Homo sapiens: one gene and its partners. The protein of the gene in region 1 purifies or fractionates together with the protein of each later gene. This does not show direct contact. Each region holds a gene or a part of one and is shown on either strand. Other genes may lie near its edges.

Region 1 (3,500 bases):
GGGCAAAACATAGTCACTAATCATTCTGGCTTCCAGCTCTAGTGACCCAACCCTGTCTTCTTTCCCTCTGACCAGTACTATGACGACACCTACCCCAGTGTCAAGGAGCAAAAGGCCTTTGAGAAGAACATTTTCAACAAGACCCATCGGACTGACAGTAGGTCATTTTCCTTTCACTACTACCCGTGCTGGGGGGAACCATGGTGGAAAGGGGGTGGTAACAGGGCTGCAGAGAAAGGATGAAATGACTCTGCCTTTTTCTTTTTTTTTCCTTCTTCCCCTTGTATAATAAACTCTTCAGAATGTAATGGGGAGGTGAGTGTACCTCACGCGGGAATACCATGCTGGAAGGTTGGCTGTTAGCTACCTGTCTAGTCCCTGGATTTATGAGCCTCACTTGACAAATTTAATTGCAGCTCTGCTTATTGTACCGCATCCATTAGGGCAGGTAAATGGAAGTCTGTAAAGGTGACCGCTCTGCATTTTCACCTCCGAAGGATCGACTAGTATCCTGTCTCATATACAAGTAGGGAAATAGGTATAGTGGGCAGGAACAGAGGATGGTGGTTACAGAAGATACATTTAGACTCCCCCAAGTTCATACTTCTCTTCTCCTGCCACCACCCAAAAAGTGCAGATCATCTTCTGGCTTTGGAAGTCATTACAGGCGGCCTCACCTTAGCCCAAAAGAGCTGGATACTAGGAATTCATGGTAACGCCTTCTTTTTTTTTTTTTTTTTTTTTGAGACAGAGTCTCTCTCTGTCACCCAGGCTGGAGTACAGTGGCGAGATCTCGGCTCCCTGCAACCTCCGCCTCCCAGGTTCAAGTGGTTCTCCCATCTCACCCTCCTGAGTAGCAGGGATTACAGGTGCACACCACCACGCCCGGCTAATTTTTGTATTTTTAGTAGAGACGGGGTTTCACTGTGTTGGCCAGGCTGGTCTTGAACTCCTGACCTTAGGTGATCCGCCAGGCTCGGCTTCCCAAGGTGCTGGGATTACAGGCATGAGCCACTGCGCCTGGCTGGTAACTCCTTCTTTCCTACTTCCTTATCTCAAGCCACCCACTATTTTTACTTTTTTTCCCCCACCAGGTGAAATTGCCCTCTTGGAAGGCCTGACAGTGGTATACAAAAGCAGTATAGATCTCTATTTCTATGTGATTGGCAGCTCCTATGAAAATGAGGTGAGAATCCCCACCCCTCTTTGCTATTTCTGATCCTACTTTCTAAACCACAGGCAGTACATAGCCACTGGTTTGGGGCCCTAATAGAGCCGTGTTCCTCTGGCTTCTGACCAAGCTAATGAAGTTGTCAGAGATCCCACCAGCCTCACAAACATGGCCCGGCAAATGAATCGCCTAGAAAGGAAGTTTTCCTAGATTAATCTTTTGCATCCATTAGGAAACATCATATATGTTTTAATACCTTTCCCTGAGTAGTGTTTTTTAAGATGGATTTCTGAGGTATGGTCAAGACTGCAGGGGGATACTTGCTTCTTCTATGAAGGGTCCATACCTGACTGAGTTTGAGCCAATTAGCTAACAACCTGGGTCATGTTGAAACCATACATTCTGAATGGATCACTGGAGAAGACCTTGGGTATAGTCCTAACCTGCTTCCTATATGCAGGAAAAGCTGTTTGCCTCAGATAGCAACTTCTAGGAGAATAGATAAATAAAAATAAGCCCCCAGATAATTTGAGGCAAAAGTGAAAGTTTGAGAAAGTCAACTCTTACTGAGCTCTTATTATTGGTATAAGTGCTTTGTAAAGTATATTGTTATTTAAACCTCATAGCACTTCTATGAGTTGTAGGCATTGGTGCCTTTGTTTTACAAATGAGGAAACCAAACCATGAAGAACTATATGAAATTACTTGTATGTGACCATTGAGAAAAGTACAAAAGTGGCAGTTATCTGATGTGGTTCAACCTAGTAACTTTCTCAGGGTCACACATGTAGAAAATGGCTCAGCTTGGATTCCAACCCATATCTGTCTGACTTAAAGTCCATGCTTTTTAAAAAATTTTGAGACATAGGCCGAACGTGGTGGCTCACACCTGTAATCCCAGCACTTTGGGAGGCCAAGGTGGGCGGATCACTTGAGGTCAGGAGTTCGCGACCAGGCTGGCCAACATGGCGAAATCCCATCTCTACTAAAAATACAGGCCAGGCATGGTGGCTCACACCTGTAATCCCAGCACTTTGGGAGGCCGAGGCAGGCGGATCACGAAGTCAGGAGATTGAGACCATCCTGGCTAACACAGTGAAACCCCATGTCTACTAAAAATGCAAAAAATTAGCTGGGCGTGGTGCGGGCACCTGTAGTCCCAGCTACTCGGGAGGTTGAGGCAGGAGAATGGCATGAACCTGGGAGGCGGAGGTTGCAGTGAGCCGAGATCATACCACTGCATTCCAGCCTGGGCAACAGAGCGAGACTCCGTCTCAAACAAACAAACAACAACAACAACAAAAATTAGCTGGGCGTGGTGGTGGGCGCCTGTAATCCCAGCTACTTGGGAGGCTGAGGCAAGAGAATTGCTTGAACCTGGGAGGTGGAGGTTGCAGTGAGCTGAGATTGCGCCATTGCACTCCAGCCTGGGTGACAGAGCCAGACTCTCAAAAAAAAAAAAAAAATTTGAGACAGGGTCTTGTTCTGTCTCCCAGGCTGGACTGCAGTGGTGCGATCTTGGCTCACTGCAACCTCTGGCTCCCAGGCTCAAGTGATTCTACCACCTTAGCCTCCCAAGTAGCTGGGACTGCAGGTGCCCACCACCATGCCTGGCTAATTTTTTTTTGTATTGTTTGTAGACAGGGTTTTGCCATGTTGCCCAGGCTGGTCTCAACTCCTGAGCTCAAGCAATCGGCCTGCTGCAGCCTCCGAAAGTGCTGGGATAGAGTCAGAGTCTAGACAGGGTCTAGACGTTACAGGTGTGACCCACTGTGCCCAGCCAATTAAAGTCCATGCTTTTTACACTAACTCTGAAGCCTTCCTCTGACCTCAGCTATTGCTTGGTTAGTAATTTCTCTACCTAAGACATCAGGTAACACATATACAGTTGGTGAAGACATTGTAGAGGACTGTGACAGGGAAGTTCTGTTTAAACTTTTGGCTAAAAGATGTTGAATTGTGGAATCATGTAGCAGAATTTATTTCTGTGAGAAATCACAGATCCTTTTCCTGTTGTGCTCTCACTTCCACTTTATGTTTTTGGTCCTTTGTGAAAGCCTGTGTCTTTTGATGTTTAATGAATTAGGAGGTTTTGTTTTTAGGTAGCAGCTTTCAGGGCCTTGAACCTTATCCTTCTGCCTCCTCTGTTTCCCAACAGCTGATGCTTATGGCTGTTCTGAACTGTCTCTTCGACTCATTGAGCCAGATGCTGAGGTGAGCAGGACATTCTTTTTTTTCCCCTCAAGTTATGATGGAAAGAGCAGGGCATTGTTGATTTCTTTTTGGGAGATAAAGTAACCATTCTTCAGGCCCAGGGATTGTAGGGGAT
Region 2 (3,500 bases), 1.5 Mb from region 1:
ACAATTAGGCTTAAAGAAATTCAATAACTTGCTTAAATATCACACAGCTTGGCCAGGTGTGGTGGCTCATGCCTGTAATCCCAGCACTTTGGGAGGCTGAGGTGGGAGGATTGCTCAAAGCCAGGAGTTTGAGGCCAGCCCTGGGCAACACGGGTAGACTCTGTCTCTACAGAAAATTAAAAAATTAATACACAGTTCAGGTGTGGTGGTGTGCCCCTGTAGTCCCACCTACTGGGTGGGAGCAGGGGCTGAGGTGGATCACTTGAGTCCAGAAGACTGAAGCTGCAGTGACCCCTGATTGTGCCACTACACTCCAGCCTGGGAGAAAAAGCGAGACACTGTCTCAAAAAACAAACAAACAAACAAACAAACAAACAAACAAACCACAGCTTGTAAATAGTAGACCAATATGCCAGCTCAAGTGTCTCTGATTTATGCTCAATATTAACTGCCAAAGTCTTGGCACTTCTTTCTTTCACTCTCTCCTCCTCAGCCTCCTTGCTAGCTCTTCTTCCACTCAAACCTGTAAATATTCACTAAGATTCCTTCTTTGGGCGTCTTGTCATTCCACATATATCAAAGGCTAATTCACTTCCCGATTTCAATCAGCGGCAAAGTCTATCAGCATTATCTTTAAAATATATCCAAAATCAAACCCTTCTCACCACGGCAAATGCTACTACTCTAGTCTTTCTTTCATACAGATTATTGTCAAAATTCTTCAGCCCTTGCCTCACTATAGTTTATTCTCAACAAAGTAACAGAGTGATCTTTTGAAAATTTAAGTCAGAACATGTCACTCCTCTAGTCAAACATCATCCATTGGTTTCGTATCTCACTAAGGGTAAAAGGCTGAATCCTATCACCTAAAAGGCCCTGCAGCTTTGCCCTCCCCTACCATTACCTTATTACCATTGCTCACTCTGATAAGCCAAACTGGTCTTGTGCTATTCCTCTAACACTTTGCACATAGCTCATTCCTTCACGTCCTTCAACTCTTTTTGTAAACATCTCCTTGTTAATGACTTCCCCAGTCACTCTATTTAAAATTACAATACCCTTCCCATTGTACTCCCTATTCCTTTCTCCTATTTTTCTCTATGTGCCTTATCAATCACTATTTGACATACCATAAATTTTACTTTTTATTTTGCCTTCCCTCAGTAAAATACAAGCTCTATGAGAGCAAGGATTTTGTCTCTGTTGTTCACTGCTGTATCTTTGGCACCCACAGTAACTGGGACATGGCAGGTGCTCCATATTTTCTGAATAAATCCCAAGTCTTCATCATCAGCTTTCAGCTCTTGAGTGAAAGACCCACATTTCCAACTGACTACCTGACATGTCCAAGTGGATGTCCCACAGACACCTAAGCCTCAAAATGAACTTACCTCTTCTGTGCAAAACTGGCTTCTCCTCCTCCCAACCCAGACTAAAGGTATCACTACCCAAACCCTGGAGTCATCTTTCATTTTTCCCATATCTAACTGATCTATAAATACTTGAAATTCTACTACATCCTAAATGTCTTTCAAATTCATTCCCATTCTTTTGAAGTCTTGACATGCTTATTCACTCAACAAATCGTTATTGAGCACCTACTGTATTATCAAGTATTATCTTGGATACAGGGAAATAATCATGAGCAAAACATAAGAGTCCTTCCCATTCCGAGCTTACAATCTTGCAGAGAACAAACCAATCAATGATCAGATAGCGTTTAGCTGATTTTTTTTTTTTGAGACGGAGTCTCACTCTGTTGCCCAGGCTGGAGTGCAATGGCGCGATCTCGGCTCCTGCAACCTCCGCCTCCTGGGTTCAAGTGATTCTCCTGTCTCAGCCTCCCGAGTAGCTGGGATTACAAGTGCGCGCCACCAGGCCCAGCTACTTTTGGTATTTTTAGTAGAGATGGGGTTTCACCATATTGGTCAGGCTGGTCTCAAACTCCTGACCTCGTGATCTGCCCACCTTGGCCTCCCAAAGTGCTGGGATTACAGGCATGAGCCACCGTGCCCGGCATGTTTAGCTGATTTTTTAAGAACACACAGGGTCTTATGAAATTATATAAAAAGTGGCCTGACCATGTTTGTGGATAGAACATAGAAAGCTTCCTTGGGTAAATAATATTTGAGTGAAACACCTGAAAGGGGTGTAGTAATTAATTAGATAAACGTGTTAGGGAGGAAGGGCAGCCGGAGTACTACAGCCGAAAGAAAACTCCAATTGCAGCATATGTGAAGGTTCTAGGTTGAGGTAAGAGGGAGAAGCAGTGTGCAATGATTAGAACATGAATTTTGGACACAGGCTGCCTGGAATTTTTTTTTTTTTTTTTTTTTTGAGACGGAGTTTCACTTTTGTTGCCCAGGCTGGAGTGCAATGGTGCCATATCGGCTCACCGCAACCTCCACCTACGCGGTTCAAGTGATTCTCCTGCCTCAGCCCCCCGAGTAGCTGGGATTACAGGCATGTGCCATCACGCCCAGCTAATTTTGTATTTTTAATAGTGACGGGGTTTCTCCATGTTGGTCAGGCTGGTCTCGAACTCTCGACCTCAGGTGATCCGCCTGCCTCGGCCTCCCAAAGTACTGGGATTACAAGCGTGAGCCACTGCACCCAGCCTGCTTGGATTTAATATACAACATTTTAGCTGTGCAACCTAAGGCAAGTTACTCAGTTACTCTCTCTGAGCTATGGTTTTTCTTATTTTCAAATGAGGATAATACAGGTATTTACCTTACAGGGTTATTATGAGAATTAAATCAGTTAGTGTATGTAAATGGCTTCAAACAGTGCTTTGCCACATAACAAATGCTAAGTGTTGGCAATTGATGAAGCATTCTGAAGAAATTAAATAAAATAAGGCCACAGTAGTTGAAGAGTTAGTAACTATGCTGGAGAGACGGGCAGGGATATAATTTAAAGGTTTTAAGCAGGGGAATGACTCCTATAATAAATATCTAAGTGGTGAAATCGCTCCCCCTACAAATCCCATCCGCCAAGAGAATACAAGCTGATCACATCAAGCTCCTCCTTTCAAACTTCCAAAGGCTCCCAGCCCTACTTCTTACATGACAAAGGCCAGAAGTCCTTACATAACTTAGAAAGCCCTTTTCAATATCACTCTGATTTACCTTTATAGTTTACCTATTTTCCTTTCCAAACTATCTTCAACTACCAATATATTTCCTCACTTCACTTTTCAATACAAATGTCTCACTATTCTCAACACTCTGACACTACTATCACTTTCTCCTCTCCTCTGCAATAGTTCCTTTTCTAATGTTTGACTGGATATCTGATACTGTTACAGTTCAAGCCATTTTCATCCACAGTTCAATCTCTCTTTCCAAATGTGTTAGTATGGGCCAGGAGTGGTGGCTCATGCCTATAATCCCAGCACTTTGGGAGGCCAAGGCAAGAGGATCACCTGAGGTCAGTCAAGTCCAGCCGGACCAATAACATGGTGAAACCCCATCTCTACTAAAAATACAAAAATTAGC
Region 3 (3,500 bases), on another chromosome or scaffold:
TCTTTAAGAGTCAAGAGATTGGCATTTTTACCAGTGAGAATGTGGCTTAGTCATGTATGAAATAAAGAGTACCATGGTTATTTGGAGGAATGGGACCGCTAGAGTGAAAGCTCCATGAGGACAGGGATTTTGTTAATATTCATTGCTGTGACCACTAAGCCTAAAAATAAATCCAAAACAATGCTAACCTAGTAGTTCAGGTTCAGTAAATATTTTTTGACTGAAATCATCAAAAGTGTATATTTTTGGTTTTAGTGACACATAATTACCTTATAGTGTGGAGATAATCCTTAAAATCTATCAAAACTGTTGTGAAAGTAATGTGACATATCTGCTTCTCCTCCCCATACTACTCGATAGAATCCTGGACTGTATACTTGAAAATTATAAAATACTAGTCTAACCCAATGTTATTAAGAACGTGAGTGTGCTAATGTCAAAAATAAAACATTTTAAGGCCAAATTGAGGGAATTTATATTATCTGCTAGCTTTTTATCTGAATTGTTCCCAGTCAGCATAAGTGATCAAAGGTGTACTTAATAAAGGCTGTGGCTAGCATTTGAACTCTATGTAGTATGCAGTTCTCTTAATGATCAACAGTATGAGTCAGACTTAATGAATTTAAAAATGAAACATAAAGGTCATTCTTATTTTGAATTTGTTTTAAACATCATCACATAAAATTTGTGAGTATATCCTGAAGCTGACTTTAGTGTTTGAAAAGTATTGTTTAGTAAATTTTGACAAATGTGTATACCCATTTAACCATCACCCCGATCAGTACACGGAACATTTTTATCATCCCAGAAAGTTCCCTCATGCCTCCTTAAAGTCAACAACCTTCTCCACAGAGCCCATCACTATTCTTATTGTTATCACTGTAGATTAGTTCTGCCTATTCTTATAAGTAGAATCACACAGTGTAATGAAAGAGAAATATTTTTCCATTTTAATTTTATTTAACTTTTTATGTATTTAGGAAGAGTACAAGTGCAGATTTCTTATATGCTTGTGTCATATAGTGGTGAAGTCTGGGGTTTTAGTGTACTCTCACCCTAATGAACCTGGTACTCAGTGGGTAATTTTCAACCTTCATTCCCCTCCCACCTTTTGTAGTCTCCAGTGTCCGTTATTCCACTCCATTTGTCCATGTGTACCCATTGTTTAGCTTTTACTTATAAGTGAGAATGTATGGTATTTGACTTTCTAAGTCATTTCACTTGGGATAATCACTTCCAGTTCCATCCATGTTGCTGCAAAAGACATAATTTCATTCTTATTTTATGGCTGAGTAGTAGTCTATAGTATATACATACATATATACACACACACACGCCACATTTTCTTTATCAAGTTCTCTGTTGATGGGCATTTAGGTTGATTCCATATCTTTGCTATTGTAAATAGGGCTGCAATAAACGTATAAGTGCAAGTATCTTTTTGATATAATGATTTCTTTCCCTTTGGGTAAACACCCAGTAGTGGGATTGCTGGATCAAACGGTAATTCTAATTTTAGTTCTTTGAGAATTCTCCATACTGTTTTCCATGAAGGTTGTACTAATTTACATTCCCACCAACAGCATATAAGCATTCCCTCTTCTCCACATCTTGACAACATCTGTTGTCTTTTGACTTTTTAATAATGGCCATTGTGACTTGTGTAAGATAGTATCTCATTGTGGTTTTAATTTGGATTTTTTTGATGATTAGTGATGTTGAGCATTTCTTCATTTATTTGTTGGCCACTTGCGTGTCTTCTTTTGAAAAATGTCTGTTCATGCTCTTTGCCCAGTTTTTTAATGGGCTTTTTGTTTTTCTCTTGAGTTGTTTGAGTTCCTTGTAGATTCTGGATATTAGCCCTTCGTTGGATGCATAGTTTGCAAATATTTTTTCCCATTCTGTAGGTTAGATTATTGTGTTGATTGTTTCTTTTGCTGTGTAGAAGCTTTTTAGTTTAAGTCCCATTTGTCTATTTTTGTTTTTCTTGTGTTTGCCTTTGAGGACTTGGTCTAAGTTCTTTACCTAGGCCAATATGCAGAAGAGTCTTTCCTCAGTTTTCTTTTAGGATTTGTATGGTTTCATGTGTTATGTTTAGGTCTTTAATCCATCTTGAGTTAATTTTTGCATATGGTGAGAAGTATGGGTCCACTTGCATTCTTCTATATATAGCTATTCAATTTTTTCTGCACCGTTTATTGAATAGGATGTCCTTTCCCCAGTGTTTATTTTTGTTGACTTTGTTGAGGATCAGTTGATTGTAGGTATGTGGGTTTATTTCCTGGTCCTCTGTTCTGTTCCACTGACTTATGTGTCTGTTTTTATACCAGTATTATGCTGGTTTGGTTACTTTAGCCTTGTAGTATAATTTGAAGTCAGGTAATGTGATGCCTCCAGATTTATTCCTTTTGCTTAGCATTGCTTTGGCTATTTGGGCTCCCTTTTTTTTCCATATGAGTTTTAGGATTTTTTTTTTCTAATTCTGTGAAAAATGACATTGGTAATTTGATTGGGAGTGTCTAGAACTAGTAGATAGTTTTGGGCAGTATGGTCATTTTAACAATATTGATTCTTCCAATTCATGAGCATGGGATACTTTTCCATTTGTTTGTGTCATCTACCATTTCTCTCATCGTTGTTTTGAAGTTCTCCTTATGGAGAGCTTTCCCCTTCTTGGTTAAATATATTTCTAGGTGTTTTTTTTTTTTTTTAGCTGTTGTAAATGGAATTGCCTTCTAGATTTGGTCTGCTAGATCATTATCAGTATATGAAAATGCTACCGATTTCTGTACATTAATTTTTTATCTTGAAACATTACTGAATTCATTTATCAAATCTAAGAGTTTTTTGGTGGAGTCATTAGGATTTTTGAGATATAAGATCATATCATTAGCAAACAGGGATAATGTTACTTACTCATTTCCAGTTTGGATGCCTTTTATTTTTTTCTCTTGCCTGATTGCTCTGGTGAAGACTTCTAGTATTATGTTATTACACGTAAGAGTGATAAAAGTGGCATCCTTGTCTTGTTCCAGTTCTTAAAGGGAATGTTTTCAACTTTTCCCTGTTAAGTGTGAGGTTGGCTGTGGGTTTGTCATATGTGGCCTAATGTTGAGGTGTGTTCATTGAGGATTTTTATCATGAAGGGATGATGAATTTTATTGAATGTCCTTTCTGAGTCTGTTGAAATGATCATGTGTTTTGTTCTTAATTCTGTTTATGTGGTGTATCATATATATGGATTTTTATATGTTGAACCCTCCTTGCATCCCTGGGATAAATCCCACCTTGATCGTGCTGTATTATCTTTTTGATGTGCTGTAGGATTCATTTTGCTGGTATTCTGTAGAGGATTTTTGCATCTTTGTTCATCAGGGATATGGGTCTGTAGTTTTCTATTTTTTTGTGTCCTTGTCTGGTTTTGGTATCAGGGTGATACCGCCCTCATAGGATGAGTTAGGGGGAATTCTCTCCTCAGTGTTTTGGAATAATTTCAGGAG
Region 4 (3,500 bases), on another chromosome or scaffold:
AGCCTGGACAACAGAGCAAGACTCCATCTCAAAAAAAAGGAAAGAAGAATTCGCATCTGTCCAATATGTTAGTTTTGGGAGCATTTTCAAATGTGTAATATTTTATCGAAATAACAACAAAAAAAGTCTGCAGGTAGTTTGATGACCTATCATTATAATTCCCATTTACAGCTGAGGAAACTGGGATACATGAAGTGATTTAAGCTTATTCTACCAACAAGAAGAACACAATCCAAGGTCTCTTTGCCCCAAGTGTCCCTCTGCTTCAGGAACCCTACCACTCTGCATGCACGCACACACACACACACACCCTTGTGCTCACACACATACACCCTATGTTCATACATATGCACCACTGTGCTCACACACACCCCTATGTTCATACATACACACACCACTGTGCTCACGCACACACACCCCCACTGTGTTCATACATACACACCACTATGTTCACACACACCCACACACCCCACTGTGTTCATACATATACACCCAGACTCCAGCCTGGGTGACAGAGCGAGACTCTGACTCAAAAAAAAAAAAAAAAAAAAAAATTAATGAAATGAAAGCAAAGGCCAGAGAAGCAAAGGGCATCATCTTTGGTCACTTTACCTCCCCTGGTTTTATCATGTGAAATTCAGCCAGGTGGGGAAAGCTTACAGTGATGAAGAAAGTTAAGAAAAAAAAAAAACACCAAGCACTAAAAAGGGAAAAGGAATGTGTGGAATTAGATAGATGGTAGTTGCACAAAACAGAGAATACATTAAAAATCACTGCACTGCACGCTTTAAAATGGGGCATTTGATGTGATGTGACTTACATTTCAATTTTCTAAAAGAGAAAAAGAATGTGGTAGAAAAAGCAATAGGTCTGGGTGCACAGAATGAAGGACAGCCAAGAAAGAAATGTCAATTACTCTCAGTTCTCAAGTGTTAAATAAAGTTCCTATGAATACAGACGAGGGTAGCACATTAAGGAAAAATGGGATGGAGGGAAGAAAACAGAGGTTTTTTCCTTGCAAAGGTTTATAAGGGATGTTTTACCGAGAGATGGGCAACAGGAAACCCTGGCAGTGCTGGCCAGATCAGCAGGGTCAGGTCCCATCCCCATATACAGGCGCAGAAGCCCCAAACAATACCAGCAAAGAGGGTCCTGAGGTGAAGGGACCAGCCTACAGGAACAGTCCACGTCATATTCAGGGAAATAAATAGTATCTTGGTGGCCCAGCATAGTGGCTTACGTCTGTAATCCCAGCACTTTGGGAGGCCAAGGAGAGCAGATCATTTGAGCCCAGAAGTTAAAGACTAGCCAGGGCAATGCCATGAAACCCTGTCTCTACAAAAAACAAGCCGGTCATGGTGGTGCGCACATGTAGTCCCAGCTACTTCAGGGGCTGAGGTGGGACGATCACTTGAACACGAGGCTGCACTGAGCCACGACTGTGACACTGCACTCCAACCTAGGCAACAGAGCAAGATCCTGTCTCAAAAATTAAATAAATACATAAATATTTTTTTAAAAAGAAAACATTAACAACCAGACAAAACAAATGCATCTATTTGGCCTTTGGGTGACTTATTTATAGATATGCTTTCAGAATTAAGGAAAGCGGATGTTGCTTAGGCAACAACAAAAAATAAAAGATAAAAATAAACCCTGCGAAAATTTCTTTTTTTTTTTTGAAACAGAGTCTCACTCTGTTGCCCAGGCTGGAATGCAGTGTCGCAATCTCGACTCACTGCAACCTCTGCCTCCCGGGATCAAGCGATTCTTCTGCCTCAGCCTCCCAAGTAGCTGGGACTACAGGTGCACACCACCACGCCTGGCGAATTTTTGTAATTTTAGTAGAGACGGGGTTTCACCATACTGGCCAGGGTAGTCTCAAACTCCTGACTTCATGATCCACCCGCCTCGGCCTCCGAAAGTGCTGGGATTATAGGTGTGAGCCACCGCGCCCAGCCGAAAATTTCTTTAATAAAACTTGCCAGAGCATGGTTAAGAAAAATTAAAAGTATTGATTTATTAAAAGGCACTACCAAAAAATAAAGTTAAGCCATAGATTAGGAAAAAATATTTGCGACACATATATATCTGGCAAACGGCTTGTATAAAAAATACGTCAGCCTGGGCAATAGAGCAAGAGCAAGACTCCATCTGAAAAAAAAAAAACATGTAAGGAACTGCTGGGCGTGGTGGCTCACGCCTGTTAATACCAGCACTTTGGGAGGCCAAGACGGGCGGATCACGAGGTCAGGAGATCGAGACCATCCTGGCTAACATGGTGAAACCCATATCTAATAAAAATACAACAAAAAAAAAAATTAGCTGGGCGTGGTGGCAGGCGCCTGTAGTCCCAGCTACTCCAGAGGCTGAGGCAGGGGAATGGCGTGAACCCGGGAGGCAGAGCTTGCAGTGAGCCGAGATCGCGCCACTGCACTCAAGCCTGGGCAACAGAGGAGACTCCATCTCAAAAATAAATAAATAAATAAATATGTAAGGAACTTAAAAATACAAACAATCCAATTTTTTAAATGGGCAAAAGTCTTGAACAGACACTTTACAAATCCAGGCATACAAAGACCGACAAGCATGTAAGCGCTCACCATTATGAGTCATCAGTGAAATGCACATTAAAACTAACAAGATGCCACTATACCCCGCTAGAATGGCTCAGATGAAAAAGACAGGCAAGGCCAGGCACGGTGGCTCACGCCTGTAATCCCAACACTTTGGGAGGCCGATGGGGGGTGATCACCTGAGGTCAGGAGTTCAAGACCAGCCTGACCAACATGGAGAAACCCATCTCTACTAAAAATACAAAATTAGCCCGGCATGGTGGCCCATGACTGTAATCCCAGATACTCAGGAAATTAAAGCAGGAGAATTGTTTGAACTCGGGAGGCAGAGGTTGCAGTGAGCTGAGATCGTGCCACTGCACTCCAGCCTGGGCAACAAGAGTGAAACTCCATCTCAAAAAAAATAAAAAATAAAGTATTGAAAGTAGTCAAAATCATAGAAACAAAGTAGAAAAGATGGTTACCGGGGGAGGGCGAGGGAGGAGGAGATATCAGTATTTGGGGGCTACAGTCTCAGCGCTGCCAGATGAAAGAGTTCCAGAAATGTGGAACAACGATGTGCATATCCTTAACACTACTGAATTGTGAACTTTTAAATGGTTAAAATGGTACATCTTTGAAAAAAATTGAAGTGGCGCGAGGTTTCCCCAAGAAAAAGTAATGATAGGATTAAACAGCATTATCATGATTCACTTGAAGCTGCAGCTTTAAGTACTGCAAGGTGATTCAAAGCTTATACCGCGAAGCAAAAAAACTGAGTTAGAATCTTGACTTCACAGCTGTGTAACTTTGGTTTCTGAAACTTCCCCTCTCTCACCCTCAAATTCCTCAACAGTAGAATCTCAGTAACAGTACCTATTTTACTTTTTTTTTTTCTTTTTGAGATGGGAGTCTCACTCTGTCGCCCAGGCTGGAGTGCCGTGG
Region 5 (3,500 bases), on another chromosome or scaffold:
ACCCCCGCCCCTGCCCTGCTGACCTGCAGCTTGCGTCAAAAGAGATCCATGACATAAATGTCAAACTGGGGAGGACAGGAGTCTGAGCAAATCCCAGCCATGTGCCCTAGACCATGACTGTAGCAATAACTTAGGGTGGAGACAAAAAGCAAAAAGATGTAGTCCTGGGGATTGCTTCCCAGATGGAGTAGGCCAGAGGGAAACTGCAGAGGCAATTCAGGATTTGGCCCAGGTGAGGCAGGGTCTCTAGGCCAGTGAGGTCTCTCACTGAGGACCAGGAGCCTATGCCAGCCATTCTTGGGAAGGAGTCTTCATGTCTCTGGGCCTCAGTTTCCCCACCAGGTTAAACAACAGACAGGACATTAGCCTTACACACACCCATACACAGGGTGAAAAGGAAAAACACACAGAAGAGCTTATCAGGACTCCAAACTCAGGGAAGGCTGAGGAAGCAGCAAAAAGTGGGCTCTAGGGTCCAGCTGCCCGGGTTCAGACTCCAGCTCTGCTCTGCCACTCACTGGCTATGAGACCTGGGGCAAGTCACATTCCCACTCAGGGCTTGGTTTCCTCATCCGAAGGATGGAATACAAAGAGTACCTTCCCTGCTGGGCTGCCATGGGGACTGAATCATACCTAACACATGGCCCACCCTGAGATACATTCTCAACAAATGTCAGCAACCAGCTACTGTCTGACCCTGAACAGGGCAGGTGGGCCAGACCTTAGAAACCCTCAAATACACAAGTGGGATTTTCTCTGTTACAAAATGAGCAGCTAGCAGATTTCAGAGGAGGGCTGATCAGAGAATTCATGGGGGTAGGGGGTGAGGGGCGGCGGAGTAGACTAAGAAGGACCAAGATCAGGACACTATTCTTGGAGGTTATTCTGGTAGGCCTCGTGGGGCTTCAGTGTGGCTGTCATGAGAAGTATGTATGAAAAGGAAACAGGAGGAAAGGGAGGCAGGCGTGGAGGCTGTTAGCAGCCACCCAAGGCTCTGAGGCCAGGCCAGGCTGCTGACAAAAAAGGATGGGGGAAAAAGAGAAGGAAATTTCAGAAAATCCCATCCCTCCCCCAATGGTTACAGGGCCCCAGTGTCATCTCTGCTACCAGCAATAGCCAGCACTGGCCCGGTGAGCGTCTGGCCCATGATGCACACATGCAAAATGGCTGGATGACCAGTGGAATGTGCAGGACTGCTCTTCTCCCGCCCATACCCACCACTACCAGACACCCATGGCCAATGTCCCTTGGCCAAGCCGGCCTCTCTGACACTCCTCCCTCCAGACCGGGGGGCCGATGGGACCTGCCCACAGAGGACGGATCAGTGCTGGGGGATAGGAGCTGGAGGGGGAGAAGGGATGAAAGGCGCTGAGGTTGCAGGTGAGGGAGGGGTGGGGAGAAGTTGAGGGCCCTGGAGGAGACCCAGCCTGGCCTCCTGCCCGGGGCCATGGGGGGCACGTACGTCATCCTCAGTGGCTGCCTGTGGCAGCATCCTCAGCATGACGATGTTACTGGCCTTCTCCTCCTCCTCCTCATCCTCCTCCTCCTCCTCCTCCTCCCCTTGCTCGGTCCGATAGTCCTGGTCCCGATAGTCGCCGTCTCGGGGGAAGCCTGGCGGGCCGGTGGGGCTGTGCCTGTGCCGCCGCCGCCGCCTACGCTGAGTCTCGGAGCCCGGGGAGGCCTCGTAGGAATCCTGGCCGACAGAATGAGATGAGTGACACCAGACGGGCAGTCAGTCTGGGCAGGCCTAGGAGCTGGCCGCTGGCTCTGTGAGGCAGGCAGGCTCTGAAAGCCAGGGATGTGCGGGCTCCGGCTAAAGGCTCAGGCAGGCAGGGTGGGCAGGCCCCGGCCTGCAATCTTTCTGGGACTGTAAATTCTCCATGGGGTCCTTTTGGGGGCTGCCTTCAGTGGGTGGGGAGAGGTAGGTGACAGTATTGGTGTGGGGGGAACTCCCAAAGGTAGCTGACAAGACACAGCTTAAACCTCCTTGGGGCAAGATGGCCTGGGGTCAGCACACCAGACCCCACCCTTGATTTTCCTCTCCTCTCTGGCCAGCTCAGGGGGTGTGCTCAATTGCTTCACTGTACCACCGAAGGCTGCATGTCTCCTACGGTTCCACCCTGCAACCAAGCTGGGGGCATAAGAACAGCTTCAGATCTCAGCCAGAGCCAGGCAGCAGGAGCTGGTGGAGGTGGTGTGAGGGCTGCAGACACTCCCTCCTCAGTCCCTGATCCTCAGCCTTGGCCAGTCCTCCACCACACACCACGCTCAAAACGGTATGGCTGTTGGGCTCTGGGCTGTTGCCCAATCCATCCATTCCAGGACTAAGCAGAGCAGGCCTGGGGCCAAAGCCCTCCCGCCCACAGTGGGGAAGCACCAGATAACTTGGTGCTCCATTCCCACCCTGGCCAGGGCCCAGTGCTCCTGGAGACGTCTGGGCACAGCTTGACAGCTGCCACTGGAGAAGCCTGGCAGTCCACCAAAGGGGTTTTTGCCCTGGACCCTCCAGAGGGCAGTGGGCAGCTCACAGACTGCCCCCCAGGGCTGGGCTTGCAAGAACTCCCTTCCCAGCCTGCTGGACAGGAGAGCTGCCTGCTCGCATGGACCAGGTCCCTGACTGCCCCTCCAACTGGGATTCCCCTAAGGCAAGCCTGTTTCTTCCCCTCGGGTGGGGGCTCCCTGATGGTGTAAACATCGCGCCTCATCCCGCAGGCTAGGGTGAACTACCCAACATGGCACTGGCTTCTCCAGAAGGGTCCTTCCCTTCTGTCTAGGGGCTCTATCACCACTGGGAATGCCCATGGCTGGCCTCCCAGAGCTCCTCAGCTTGGTGGTCTGCAGTCCCCTTGTTGTCCTCCCAACCCCAGACGCCGGGTCCCATGGAAGAGGCTCTTCAAGTGCCCAAGTTGGCTGGGAGCGGGCAGTACAGGGTTCACAGTGAGCCATGGGCCCGAACTGAACAACAGGGAGAAAGGGAAAGAGTGGTGGCCAGGGGCCCTCAGAAGTACAGAGCCAAGCATGTGGAAGCCAGGGAGACCCAGGTTGGGAGAGGAGCCCTCAGAGAGGGGAGTGGGAACAGGCCCTCCAGGTGAGGCAAAGCCACCGAGCACAGTCTGAAGGCACGGGAGTGGAGAGCTGCCTGCACACGGTGCTGCAGCCAGACACAGAGGGCCCTTGGGAGCCCATCCCAGCCAGGCCTGGCGCAGCGCGCCCCCTCCTCACCTCCGCACTCTGCTCCTCAGATGAGTCGTCATAGTCATGCTTGCCCTCCTGGCTGCCATACTCGCGAGGATATGAACGGTAGTCCATGTCCCGGTAGTCGTGGTCTCGGCTGCGGTTCTCCCCACCATCATCCTGCGAGCGGTCAGTGGCTCCATAGCGGCCAGTCCTGTCACCACGACCACCACTAGTGGAGGAAGAAGGATGGGGAGGGATCAGAAGGTTGCCCTTTCTAAAAGGTGCAAGAGGCCCAGGTGATGTGTTCTCGTAGGGTTTTGGTT
Region 6 (3,483 bases), on another chromosome or scaffold:
ATAAAGGTGGGCCTTTTTTTAATGCATTGGCTTTTTGTGTAGTCAGGAAATATAATTAAGCTCTGAAATAATAACTTCATGTGCCAATGGTATGTTAGGAGAAAGATGCTAGCAGAAAGCTGGCTTCCTGGCTCTTGAGTAGTTATAAAAATACAGACTTTATATCAGCTGCCCAGTTACTGTGTGTTACCCAACTCCTGAATCTACCAAAATTTGATAAACAATTTGGAAGGACAAACCTACATTTTTTTTTTTTATGAGACGGAGTCTCTCTCACTCTGTCACCAAGGCTGGAGTGCAGTAGTGTGATCTCAGCTCACTGCAACCTCTGCCTCCCGGGTTTAAGCAATTCTCTGCCTCAGCCTCCCGAGTAGCTGGGATTACAGGCGCGTGCCACCACGCCTAGTGTATTTTTAGTAGAGAGAGGGTTTCACCATCTTGGCCAGGCTGGTCTTGAACTCTCGACCTCGTGATCCACCTGCCTCAGCCTCCCAAAGTGTTGGGATTACAGATGTGAGCCACTGCGCCCAGCCCCTAAATTGTTTTAGTAAAGAAGAAAGCAGTTGACTTTTTAGAAAAGGAAATGTCTTCTTCCTTTGACACATAACCTCAAGATGGTTAGGTTACGTGATAAAAAGTGAAGCTGCTTGTTACTGGAGCCTCTCTGAATTGCTGGTGACCACTTTGCAGTCTGAGGAAGACGCAGGTGCAAGTAAGTTACCAAGGGTATTTTGTTTTCATTCCAAGTCTCTGATGACATATTCCACCTAGCTCTTCTAGAAAAGCTTATTTGTTAACTAGTGTTAGCAAAAATAAATGGTGTGGTTAACAAATCTCAGGCATTTGACAGTAGCTGGAGAAATTTGTTCAAGGTCCACAAGAGATGAGGCTGGGCTACAAAAAGAGGCCTCTGGCCGAAGATGGATAAGAGATCACAAGTGAAAGGTCAGAAGTCACTAGGCCAGACTCTGGCTACCTAATCCCTGAATTAAAAATAAACTCAAAATGGGGGGAAAAAGGCTAAGCATATAGTTACACAGGTAGTAAATACAAATAAAACGATATTTTTGCATATTTAAAATACTGGAAGAAAGTACACCAAACTTGTGGGTGAATTATGGGTGGTTATTTAACTCGTTTAGTGAAAAGCATGTATTTTTATGAGCAGGAGAAAATAGTAAAGATATACCCACATTCTGCAGGCTAAAGGAGAGCCCTGTGTGTGTTTTAAAAGCCCATGTTTCCAGTCAAATAAAAAATTACCGGGGATGAGCTGGTGAAATTTAATCGAAAGGTGATCCATTGTGAATGCAATGGGAGGGAAGGGGCATGTGGGACTGTGTATCCCAAAAACCCTTTGATAGCCTATGTCCACAGCCATCTCTGGAAAATCCAGTCTACCATATTCAGTCTTGAGTTTTCTCTGAGAAAGGATTCCTTCGTCTTTGCAGCAGCAGGCTAAGTTGGTACTCTCCACAGATTCTTGGAACAACAACCCAGGCTCTAAGGAAACATCTAGGCACTAAATTGAATGAAAGAGTGATGGCTTTTTATTCAAATAAAAAAATTTCAAATCTGTCAAAACAGCACCCCTCGGAAAACTAAAATAGAGATATTTCAAGATTTTATAATTTTCAAAGACCTTTGAAATATTTTAAACTTGTGAAAAGTTACAAACCTGATGTGTTGTCTAAAAGCGTTTTTCAAACAAGCCAGTAGACTTGAAAAATCTAGTCTGAAGCACAGACTTAACCAATATTTGCTGGGGATATGCCCCCAAATCTGGCCATAAACAAAATCTCTGCAGTACTGTGACAGGTTCATGATGGCCATGACGCCATGCTGAAGGTTTACCGGAATGAGAGCAAGGAACACCTGGACCACCCAGGGCGGGAAAACGGCTTAAAGGCGTTCCTAAACTACAAACAATAGCATGAGCGATCTGTGCCTTAAGGACATGTTCCTGCTGCAGATAACTAGCCAGACCCCATGCCTTTGTTTCGTTTGGGAAGGAATACTTTTAGTTAATCTATAATCTATAGAAACAATGTTTATCACTGGCTTGCTGTCAATAAACATGGGTAAATCTCTGTTCGGGGCTCTCAGCTCTGAAAGCTGTGAGTCCCCTGATTTCCCACTCTGCATGCTATATTTCTGGGTGTGTGTCTTTAATTTCTCTAGCGCCTCTGGGTTAGGGTCTCCATGACCAAGCTGGTCTCGGCAAATATTTCCTATACTCGAACATCTAAATTGTTTGTTTTCTTACTTGAATTGCAAAGGAAGTAAGGAAGGGTGAGATAGAAATCACTGAGCATATTAAGAGGGAGGAGTTTGCTGATGTGGGAGTGTAGTTATGACACTTGGGCATCATACTAGAGGCTATGGACTTAGCAATAAGGAAACATCCACTCAGCCCTATGTGTGGTTCATGTGTATGTTTTGCCTATGAAAGTTGAAACTGTTTTCTAAATGTTATTTCCTTTTGTAACTGATAAAATTTCTAAAAAGCAAAGAAGAAACTTTTCTGTATTAAAAATAACAAACATTAGTAAATGTATATATACAGTCATGTGTTGCTTAATGATGGGGATACATTCTGAGAAATGTGTCTTGGGTGATTTCATCGTGACGTGAACATCATAGAGTACACTGACACAAACCTAGATGGTATAGCCTATTACACACCTAGGCTATATGGTACAGCCTGTTGCTCCTAAGCTACGCACCTGTGCAACACATCACTGTGCTGAGTACTGTACACAGTTGTAACACAGTGGTAAGTATTCGTGTATCTGAACAGAAAAGTACAGTAAAAATATAGGATCATAATTTTATGGGACCACTATCATATATGCAGTCACTGACCAAAACATCACACAGCACATGACTTGTGTGTATGGATATCTCAATTGTAAACAATTTCACAAATGTTCATTATCTCTTTTTAAGTAAGTTAATAAGTAAAACTATTACTAAGCTGCAACGTGTTCTTGTTCTGCAGTGTATTTATTCATTTGGATACAGTTGATTCTTGAACAATGCAGAGGTTAGGGGCACCAACCCTTGTGCAGCCAAATATTTGCATATAACTTTAATTCCTCCAGAACTTTTCTACTAATAGCCTACTGTTGACTGGAAGCCTTGCTGATAACATAAACAGCCAATTAACACATATTTTGTGTATGTATTGTAAAATACTGTATGCTTACAGTAAGCTAGAGGAAAAAATGTCATTAAGAAAATCATGGCCAGGCACGGTGGCTCACACTTGTAATCCCAGTGCTTTGAGAGGCCGAGGCAGGCAGATCACGAGGTCATGAGATCAAGACCATCCTGCCTAACATGGTGAAACCCCATCTCTAATAAAAATACAAAAACAAAATTAGCCGGGCGTTGTGGCCGACACCTGTATTCGCAGCTACTCAGGAGACTGAGGCGGGAGAATGGCGTGAACCCGGGAGGCGGAGCTTGCGGTGAGCCAAG
Region 7 (3,500 bases), on another chromosome or scaffold:
AATAATATTTTCCTTGAATTTTGGAGATTTAATTTTTGCTAAAGATTCTTATGTATAAGAATACATATTTCTATGTATATGAACTTCTACCTTTTTTTGGTAGAAAATTTGGCAGAAAAAGTGTATTCTATTTCATCAGTTGAACTATATGGAAATCTAGAAAAATAGAAGGTTAATAAAAAAGGAAGAATGGGGAATAGAGAAGATTTTTGTTAGGTTATTTGTGGAGGAATGTTAAAAGAGGAAGGATTTACAGTTCACGTTTTTCTCTCTTAAAAGGCCACTGCTGAAGCCAACAACTTAGCAGCTGCAGCCTCTGCCAAGGACATTTATTATAACAACATGGAAGAGGTACGTGGGACATACGCCTTATTCTGAAATATCTATAATCTGGGCATTGTTGCTGACTTCAAAAGCCCAACTTGATCCTACTTAATGTATCTTTAAGTGATGAGGCAATAAACTTATATTCAGGTTGTCCTGGTAACGGGGGCCTTCTAATTATTACCATTTCTTTGTTTGTTTGTTTGTTCTTGTTTTGTTTTGTTTTGTTTTGAATAGCAAATAGTTTATTGGTAAGTACATAGTTTCAATGGGAGTAATAAATTCACATGAGCAGGAGACAATAATCAAGTCAAAAGAATAAATGCTTACTAATCATCAGAAAATCTGTGGCCATTAAGGCTGGCACATAAAAATCCAAAATCACTCAGAGGCCGAATCTTAAAAGAAGATTCGTCCTCTTATTAGTTCATATGGAATAGGTCCATAGTAACTGGAATCTGTAGAATTCTGTAGATTTATCACCTTCTAACCAAACATGACCCACTGGGACATAACTGTAGCTTTTAAAGAAATCTGATGGACTAGTGGTGAGGATTTTGTCTCCTTCCAAACCAGTTACTCTTTTACAAATATTTGATGTTGGATCACTTGGGCTTTTTGCAATCACAATGTCACCTCTTTGGATACTATCAAAATGTCGACTAAGATTTTGTGCAAAGACAGTATCTGAATTTTGAATTGTAGGCTCCATTGATGGTCCAGAACACATGACAACACCACCAACGTATTCAGAAGCACAGTGAGCTATACAGCCATACTGAATAGCATAGCCAACAAGTCAGAAGGTTTCCCCAGAGCACCACGAAGCATAGTTCTATGTAGACTCTGCCACCATTGGTCATAGATCTGTTCTATAATTCATTTAATTTTTAGGGAAGTCGCAGGGCTTCCAGAAAAAAAAAATTAAAGCATGTCTCAAAGCGTATGTGGGTGATCCATGATTTCAGGAATCCTCGGGTCCCAAAGAACCCTGAGGACCCTCAACCAGGACACAGGTGGGCCTTTCTCACCTGGGCCCTGCAGAAGTCGACCGTTTGCTTTTGTTTTTTAGAGACGGAGTCTCACTCTGTCGCCCAGGCTGGAGTGCAGTGGTGCGATCTCGGCTCACTGCAACCTCCGCCTCCCGGGTTCAAGCGGTTCTCCTGCCTCAGCCTTCTGAGTAGCTGGGATTACAGGTGCCTGCCATCACGCCCGGCTAATTTTTTTTGTGTTAGTAGAGACGGAGTTTCACCATGTTTACCAGGCTGATTTCAAACTCCTGACCTCAAGTGATCTGCCCGCCCTGGCCTCCGAAAGTGCTGGGATTACAGGCGTGAGCCACCGCACCCGTCCCAGTGTCACTGCTCTTTCCAATTGATATTATCACCCTGGTTTTTTAAGTGTGCTTTTCAGAGGAAGTGAAACTAGACTTTATTGGTCTTAGTCATCTTTTAAAAGTTAACTTATTAATACATTGTTAACATCTTAAAACATTCTAATCCTTTCATTATCTTTTCATGTTTTATTTGGCACTTGTTTTTGAAGAGATCTTTTAACATATTGTTTCTTTGTTCTTTTTAGGTTTGTGGGGGAGAGAAACCTTATTTGTCTCCAGACATTCTAGAGGAGAAGCACTGTGAATTCAAACAACTTGCTCTGGACCATTTTAAGAAGACCAAGAAGATGGGTGGGAAGGATTTCAGCTTTCGTTACCAGCAGGAGCTGGAGGAGGAAATCAAGGAATTATATGAGAACTTCTGCAAGCACAATGGTAGCAAGAACGTCTTCAGCACCTTCCGAACCCCTGCAGTGCTGTTCACGGGCATTGTAGCTTTGTACATAGCCTCAGGCCTCACTGGCTTCATAGGTCTTGAGGTTGTAGCCCAGTTGTTCAACTGTATGGTTGGACTACTGTTAATAGCACTCCTCACCTGGGGCTACATCAGGTATTCTGGTCAATATCGTGAGCTGGGCGGAGCTATTGATTTTGGTGCCGCATATGTGTTGGAGCAGGTAAGTGGTGCTGCTGAAGAGCCTGAGGGTTGATAATGGGCAGATATTTGTGCTTCTGTTGTAAAATATCTCAGTTTGGAAGAATTTCATAGTGAAGACATGAGACAGTGGCCACTCCGTTGGCTGTTGTTTTCTGATAGACTGTATGTTTTATTATCCTTTAGGATATTAATATTTATTCTTAATATTTTGTTTCCATGTCTAAAAAGGCCCCCGCCCCGCTTTTTTTTTTTTTTTTTGAGACAAAGTCTCGCTGTGCTCTCTTGCCCAGGCTGGAGTCCAGTGGCATGATCTTGGCTCACTGCAACCTCCGCCTCCCAGGTTCAAGTGATTCTCTTGCGTCAGCCTCCCAAGTAGCTGAGACTACAGGTGTGTGCCACCACGGCCCGCTAGTTTTTGTATTTTTAATAGAGACAGGGTTTCACCATGTTGACCAGGCTGGTCTCGAACTCCTGACCTCATGGTCCGCCTGCCTCGGCCTCCCAAAGTGCTGGGATTACAGGTGTGAGCCACCGTGCCCAGCCCAAAAATAGCCCTTTAATGCAAAAACATTCCAACTTAGACATACTGATTGTGTTCCCCTTTGGCAACTTTTTTTTTTTTTTTTTTTTTTGAGACAGATTTTTACGCTTTTGCCCAGGCTGGAGTGAAGTGGTGTGATCTTGGCTCACTGCAACCTCTGCCCACTGGGTTCAAGTGATTCTCTTGCCTCAGCCTCCCAAGAGTAGCTGGGATTATAGGTGCCTGACACCATGCCCAGTTAATTTCTGTATTTTTTTTTTTTTTTTTAGTAGAGACAGTGTTTTGCCATGTTAGCTAGGCTGGTCTTGAACTCCTGACCTCAGGTGATCCACCCACCTCGGCCTCCCAAAGTGCTAGGATTATAGGCATGAGCTATTGCGCCTGGTCGGCAACTTCTAATTACATGCTCTTCAGACATAATTTTTATGTGATTCTCACTTCTCACCCCCTCTAGATTAATTTACTTCATTGAAAAGCAAGAACTTTGAAAAAATTATGAACTTAACGAAAAATGTTCGGTTTTGAGTCCTACTGGATTAGGAAAGGGATGGTATCTTTTTTATTTAAAAATCTTCCAAAAGCCAGTGGCTTGGTTATTTATTTATTGGGTTGCTTATTTATTTATTTATAAAATTTTTTTT

The links.
Region 2: the proteins of COPZ1 (region 1) and SARNP purify together in Homo sapiens (affinity purification with mass spectrometry, with the first as the bait; one large-scale study listed by BioGRID). This does not show direct contact.
Region 3: the proteins of COPZ1 (region 1) and LMAN1 purify together in Homo sapiens (affinity purification with mass spectrometry; one large-scale study listed by BioGRID and IntAct). This does not show direct contact.
Region 4: the proteins of COPZ1 (region 1) and KLC1 fractionate together in Homo sapiens (co-fractionation; one large-scale study listed by BioGRID). This does not show direct contact.
Region 5: the proteins of COPZ1 (region 1) and RBM10 purify together in Homo sapiens (affinity purification with mass spectrometry; one large-scale study listed by BioGRID and IntAct). This does not show direct contact.
Region 6: the proteins of COPZ1 (region 1) and CTSV purify together in Homo sapiens (affinity purification with mass spectrometry; one large-scale study listed by BioGRID and IntAct). This does not show direct contact.
Region 7: the proteins of COPZ1 (region 1) and ATL3 purify together in Homo sapiens (affinity purification with mass spectrometry, with the first as the bait; one large-scale study listed by BioGRID). This does not show direct contact.

Annotation. Positions count from the first base shown.
Region 1 is NC_000012.12:54,342,131-54,345,630, forward strand, and holds part of COPZ1 (coatomer subunit zeta-1), read left to right. Parts: intron 1-75; coding exon 76-157; intron 158-1,094; coding exon 1,095-1,186; intron 1,187-3,329; coding exon 3,330-3,385; intron 3,386-3,500. UniProt on the Homo sapiens protein: The coatomer is a cytosolic protein complex that binds to dilysine motifs and reversibly associates with Golgi non-clathrin-coated vesicles, which further mediate biosynthetic protein transport from the ER, via the Golgi up to the trans Golgi network.
Region 2 is NC_000012.12:55,811,225-55,814,724, forward strand, and holds part of SARNP (SAP domain-containing ribonucleoprotein), read right to left. Parts: intron 1-3,500. UniProt on the Homo sapiens protein: Binds both single-stranded and double-stranded DNA with higher affinity for the single-stranded form. Specifically binds to scaffold/matrix attachment region DNA. Also binds single-stranded RNA. Enhances RNA unwinding activity of DDX39A.
Region 3 is NC_000018.10:59,342,266-59,345,765, reverse strand, and holds part of LMAN1 (protein ERGIC-53 precursor), read left to right. Parts: intron 1-3,500. UniProt on the Homo sapiens protein: Mannose-specific lectin. May recognize sugar residues of glycoproteins, glycolipids, or glycosylphosphatidyl inositol anchors and may be involved in the sorting or recycling of proteins, lipids, or both.
Region 4 is NC_000014.9:103,635,711-103,639,210, reverse strand, and holds part of KLC1 (kinesin light chain 1), read right to left. Parts: intron 1-3,500. UniProt on the Homo sapiens protein: Kinesin is a microtubule-associated force-producing protein that may play a role in organelle transport. The light chain may function in coupling of cargo to the heavy chain or in the modulation of its ATPase activity.
Region 5 is NC_000023.11:47,169,221-47,172,720, reverse strand, and holds part of RBM10 (RNA-binding protein 10), read right to left. Parts: intron 3,407-3,500; coding exon 3,223-3,406; intron 1,694-3,222; coding exon 1,463-1,693; intron 1-1,462. UniProt on the Homo sapiens protein: Binds to ssRNA containing the consensus sequence 5'-AGGUAA-3'. May be involved in post-transcriptional processing, most probably in mRNA splicing. Binds to RNA homopolymers, with a preference for poly(G) and poly(U) and little for poly(A).
Region 6 is NC_000009.12:97,029,177-97,032,659, reverse strand, and holds the end of CTSV (cathepsin L2 preproprotein), read left to right. Parts: 3' UTR 1-2,983; downstream 2,984-3,483. UniProt on the Homo sapiens protein: Cysteine protease. May have an important role in corneal physiology.
Region 7 is NC_000011.10:63,629,877-63,633,376, reverse strand, and holds part of ATL3 (atlastin-3), read left to right. Parts: intron 1-279; coding exon 280-351; intron 352-554; exon of another isoform or gene 555-1,183; intron 1,184-1,905; coding exon 1,906-2,337; intron 2,338-3,500. UniProt on the Homo sapiens protein: Atlastin-3 (ATL3) is a membrane-anchored GTPase that mediates the GTP-dependent fusion of endoplasmic reticulum (ER) membranes, maintaining the continuous ER network. It facilitates the formation of three-way junctions where ER tubules intersect.